2 separate regions of the Homo sapiens genome follow, and region 2 is linked to region 1. The links come from fine-mapping of genetic effects on gene expression. A gene starts in region 1. The other region holds a variant in brackets. All regions are shown on one strand. Distances are between the middles of the regions. Region 1 holds the start of ZNF252P-AS1 (ZNF252P antisense RNA 1). Region 2 has its middle 7.9 kb from the start of C8orf33.

Region 1 (2,909 bases):
CAAAGAAATCACTCCAAGGTCCTTAAGAAAGGTCCTTAAGAAAGAAATTCCTGGTTTATAAAACTGGCAAGAGGCTTATGCAGCTTTTTAAAAAATTTACATACATTTCAAGAGGGCAAAGAAAGATTTTCCTATTACAAAGTTTTCTAAAAGAAATGGTCTTAGTAAAAGGAAAGGAGTGTCTCTTCCCTTGGGCACCATGAAAAATCCAACTTTTAAAAAAATATTTAGGGCCGGGCGTGGTGGCTGACACCTGTAATCCCAGCACTTTGGAAGGCTGAGACGGGTGGATCACTTGCGCTCAGGAGTTCAAGACCAGCCTGGGAAACATGGCAAAACACCACCTCTACAAAAAAATACAAAAACTAGCTGGGCGTGGTGGTGGGCGCCTGTGGTCCCAGCTACTCCGGAGGCTGAGGTGGGAGGATCGCTTGAGCCCAGGAGTCGGGCCGTAATTGCGCCACTGCACTCTGGCCTGGGAGACGGAGAGAGACCCTGTCCCGCCCCCACCTTCAACCACCCCCCAAAAAATTAAAGATTTAGTGTGGTGGCGCGTTGCTTGTAGTCCCAGTTACTCGGGAGGCTGAGGCAGGAGGATCGCTTGAGCCCGGGAGGTCGAGGTTGCAGCCTGGGCGACAGAGCAAAACCCCATCTCTAAAAAATAAAATACCCTATGGCTCTTCCCACAACTGCTCATTCTCTGACATCTTAATGCTCCCACTGTCCCACTGAAGACGGGCTGCTTTCCTTTCCATTCTCGTAAGTCCTCCCTCCGGGCCCGTGCTCCTCACCTGCCCGGGTCGCACCTGGCCTCTCCCCTCACTCCGCTTCACCCCCGCCCGCCGCCCGTTCCGCAAGCGCGTCTCAGCACCGAGTGGTTGGTTCTCGAACTCCAGCTCCACCGCAATAGGTCTGAAACCTCTCTGCACCTCGGCTTCCTCATTTAAGCGATGGCAGCAGCCTTCTAGAGGGGGCGATGAGGTCAAAAGACTACAGGTGGGAAGTGCTAGGTGCACAGCGGGCGCGAGCTGGATTCTGAGCTTGATCACTACTTGGAGGTGGGGGAAAAGTCGCCCGAGAGAGGGGGACAGTGCACCGCGAGACGTCCTAGGTGAGGAAGGGCCGGGTCCAGAGCACGGAGAACAACCCCCGGTTGAGGAGCGTCCGCAGGAACGCTCGGTGTCGGGGTCCCTTCCTTCGCAGCCGCACGCCGCCGGCGGCACCTCTGCACCTGCGCCCTCTCGCCCGCAGACTCCGCCAAGGGCTGGAAGGGACGTAACCGGGAAGGAGCAGGACTGCCGGAGCATTGAGTACTATCAGCCGCCTAGAGCGGACCCACGAAACCTGGAATTCAATTGGTTGGTGAGCTGAAGGGCAGGGCGGAAGTTCAGATTAGGCATTTCCGGCCCAGGGGGCTTGGCTCCCCGCGGCACGGGATTTAGCGTTCGCGCTCCTTCCCTTCCCGTGGTCGAGCCGAGTGAGTCCCGAGCTAGGGCGCCTGGTGCGGAGGTGCCGGAGTGGCGCTGGGGCGGGCAGGGGCGGTGCCGTGGTTCTGAGAGGCCGCAGGTCGGGCCCCGCGGCCTCAGTGACCCGTAGAGGACGCGTCGAGGGCGGCTGCGGGGTGCTGAGCGCCCGCTTTGTGTTGGCCGAGGCGCGGGCAGGGCGAGGGTGGCGTGAGGCACGAGCGGAGGCAGCGGGGCGTGCAGGTCTACGGGCTGTCATCCACGCTCCCGAGCAACACTGAGGCAGGGAAGCCAGATGGGTAAAAAGATCTCGCAGAGGAAGGGAGTTTGGGCAATGTCAGGGGATGAGCTGAATTGTGCTTTTTTTTTTTCAGAAGAGAGAAAAGTGCATTTCATTTAGCAGGAATGTATTGATTGAAAGGGTAAAGCTGTGAGAGCTGTGGTGTGAAGGAGCTTCTGTTTTGGGGAAGGAAAGGAATAGGCAGGAGGTGATATCTCACAGATGCGCTGGAACAAGCTCAACACTCATTCATTTAGTAGGCACTCGGTAAATGCTGACTTACTGATTAGGACAATTGAGACTTAGTATTGTTTGCGGTTTGCTAATACTGTGCTGAGCATTTTATACATATTCTCATTTAACGCAATATAGTCACTTAAGGAGTAGTGTCAATCTCATTTTATGGTCTGTGGAAAAACTCAAGTCACTTACCTGAGACCTCTGCATGAGTAAGTGGTGGATCCAAGGTTAGAACTCAGTCCTATTCGAGTCCAGAGCCCATGCGCCTAATAGCAGCATTACATGCCTGCCACATGCGTTTAGGAGTGAAGGCAGAGTACACTAAGAGGTACCGCTTGTGATTCACAAAGGGCATAAGCAGCAGGGGCCAGTCAAAGGCAAGCCCTGTCTGAGGACTGGAAGATTCCCTCTGGCCAAGGTGTGCCTCAGCTGGAGACTGTGAAGACATCAATGAGCTTATGTTCAGCTGCCAGTCAGAAAGTCTGTCCAACGAAGGCTTAAATGATGATGAGACAGGGTTTGTTCCAGAGTTTGTTGTGAAATGCCAGGGCTCTAGAACGTGTCTCCAACGTTCTCTTGGCTTTCCTTTGTGGTCACTCCATTCCCCTTATTTCCTTTCAGATGCCTCTTGGCAAACTTCCCTTAACATCTTGGTGACGAGAACTGGGCCTTGCGGTCACCTAGAGCGGAAGGAAAAGGGCGCATTTCCTCCTGAACTAAACTAAGGAATTTGTTTATGTGTAGAGGGCTGTGGGGAGGTGACTTGTTGTGTATGCTGAGGCCAATTGGGAAGGCTTTTGTGGGAGTGACACATATCACTGCTAAAATAAAACCAGATTTGTGGTTTTAGATGTCATCTGTGTACTGACAGTTTTCAGTATATACCCAGCCAGCCCAACCTCACTCCTGAATTTTCAACTTGTATA
Region 2 (2,909 bases), 42 kb before region 1:
TTGCACCATTGTACTCCAGCCTGGGCAACAAGAGCAAAACTCCATCTCCAAAAAGAAGAAAAGAAAACCATAACTAAGAAAGTAATCAAATGAAATATGTAATACATGTAGTTATGTGGCAAACAGATTCAGGAGTATCTAAAAGCAGCCTTCCAAACACCAAGAGGTCAATAACAGTCCATGATCACCCCCAGGCAATACAGACACTTGGGGATTCTGGATTTCTTTTCATGTCTCTTAAATAGTGGTCCCTGGTACAGCTAGGTAGTAGATGAAGGCAGTTTAACTAAGCTCCATTCAGGGCCCAGTGTTTGTAGATGGTCAATGATGACACTTCATCAGGGTTATGGATGCTGTGTCTCAGCCCCATGGGACTGCTTAGGGAAAGAACACACAGGAGGAAGCTAAGGCACAGAACTGACCCCGTCACTGAGCCTAGTGCCTGCTGAGTGCTCACGCACACTGACAGTAAAAATGCCAGTATGGCCCAGTTTTAACGGAACCCACACACTTTCATGAGCTTTACCTCCTGAAGCCATAACAGGTTCTCACAGTGAAGATCTAAGAAAAAAAATCCCTTCATGCTTCCAGCAGTGGGAGGGGGAAATTAGCCATTCTGAAATATGCCCAGAGCGTATGGTTCTTCATAAAGCCCAACCTCAGGAGAAACTATTTTACCAGAGCCTAACCTGCTGAGGTTTTACCAGAGACAAACTGACCTGGGGAAAGGGAAATACCCAACTCCAACCTGCTCTAGCCTTTCTGTCTCATCTAAGGGGGATAAACCAATACAAAACTCAGAAGCACTTGTGAGGGTCACAATTTCACTGAAAGACTGAGACATACTCATAAGATTATGTGATGTTTCCCCTCCCTTCATATCTTACCCCAGCACTAGAGATCCTGAATAGTTAGGGGAGAATATAACTGAAAGAACTGTGTGTCTCAAACTTCAAGAAGTCTCTAGGATAACCCAAAGGCAACAAGGGAGACCAAAACAAGGACGCTGGAGACATTTTAGCCTCTGATACTGACAGCTGCAGCAAACAGAAAACGCAGCCTAACCGCGGGCCAGATAAAAACCTCACACTAAAGGCCTAACTATCAGTTCCTTTTAACCAGTGCATCGTATCTCACTTTCAATAAAATGTTACCACACGTTCTAGACACACAAAAAATATAGAATTTGAAAAGAAAAAGCAAGCATAAGAACCAAACTGAGCTTATGGCAGAGATGTTGGAAATATCAGACCTTGAATTTTTAAGACTATGATTAATATGCAAAGGGTTTTAATGGAAAGTGAGAACAATATGCAAGAACAGATAGGTAATATAAGCAGAGAAATGGAAACACTAAGAAAGAATCAAAAGAAAATGCTAGAAATCAAAAACATCATGACAGAAATAAAGACTGCCACCTGTAATCCCAGCACTTTGGGAAACCAAGGTGGGTGGATCACTTGAGGTCAGGAGTTTGAGACCAGTCTGGCCAAAATGGTGAAACACCATCTCTACTAAAAATTCAAAAATTAGCCGGGCATGGTG[G/C]CACACACCTGTAGTCCCAGCTACTCGGGAGTCTGAGGTAGGAGAATCATTTGAACCCAGGAGGCAGAGGTTACAGTGAGCCAGCCTGGGCAACAGAACAAGACTCCATCTCAAAACAACAACAACAAAAGGACTGGACACAACTGAAGAAAGAATCAATGATCCTGAAGACATGTCAGTAGAAACTTTCAAAATAGAAATGCTAAGAGAAAAAAAGAATAAAAAGGATGAAACAGAACATCCAAGAACTGTGGGACAACTGCAAAAGGTGTAACATATGCATATTGGGAATACCAGAAGAAGAATGAAGGAAAGGAACAGAAGAAATATTTGAGCCAATTGTAATAAAATTTTGCAAAATTAATAACATGCACCAAACCACAGTTCCAGAAAGTACAGACAACACCAGCAAGATAAATACCAAAATTCTATACACAAACATACCATATTCAAACTGCAGAAAATGAAGAACAAAAAAAATCTTCAAAGAAGCCGGAGGGCCAGACACGGTTGCTCATGCCCGCAATCCCAGTGCTTTGGGATGCCAAGGCGGGTGGATCACCTGAGGTCAGGAGTTCCAGACCAGCCTGACCAACATGGTGAAAACCCGTCTCTACTAAAAATACAAAAATTAGCCGGGTGTCGTGATGCATGCCTGTATTCCCAGCTACTTGGGAGGCCTGAGGCAGGAGAATTGCTTGAGCCTGGGAGGCAGAGGTTGCAGTGACCCGAGACTGCACCATTGCACTCCAGCCTGGCCAACAAGAGAAAAACTCCATTCAAAAAAAAAGGCAAGAAAGAAAAAAACTAAGCAAGGGTAAGCATTATATCAGTTTTATCTTCCAAAAAATGTTAAAAGTAACACCAGCCCCGATTCTGTATAAAGTGGCATTATCTTTCAAAAATGAAGGAGAAATAAAAACTCTCTCAGACAAAAATTGAGGGAATTTATTGCCCGTAGATCTAACCTTGCAAGAACTATTAAAATAACTTCTTCAGAGAGGGGGAAATGATAAATCAGAAACTAGTATCTACATAAAGAAAGGAAGAGCATTAGAGGCAAAATCAATAAAGGTAAATAAAATATTTTAGTTTTCTTATTCTCAATTATCTAATGGATAACAGTTTGTTTGAATTAATAATAGCAATGTATTTGGTGATTGTAGTGAAATGAATGATAGCAAAGTGGAGTTTTTTGTTTGTTGTTTGAGACAGAGTCCCACTCTGTTGCCCAGGCTGGAGAGCAGTGGCACGATCATGACTCACTGCAATCTCCACCTCCCAGGCTCAAGTGATCCTCCTGCCTCAGCCTCCTGAGTAGCTGGGACTACAGGCATGTGCCAATATACTTGGCTAATTTTGTT

Evidence for each region. PIP is the estimated chance that this variant, and not a neighbour inherited with it, causes the effect.
Region 2: its variant is fine-mapped to the expression of ZNF252P-AS1 in whole blood (TOPMed, PIP above 0.99).

Annotation. Positions count from the first base shown.
Region 1 is chr8:145,001,385-145,004,293 of GRCh38, reverse strand. It overlaps ZNF252P-AS1 (ZNF252P antisense RNA 1), which reads right to left and starts at 1,483. Exons shown (of 1, transcript NR_026974.1): 1 at 1-1,483. It also overlaps the pseudogene ZNF252P. RefSeq lists enhancers at 641-770, 514-1,090.
Region 2 is chr8:145,043,155-145,046,063 of GRCh38, reverse strand. No RefSeq gene overlaps it. Among named protein-coding and RNA genes, the nearest start is that of C8orf33, 7.9 kb to the left of the region's middle. The variant G/C (reference allele first, on the strand shown) is at 1,546.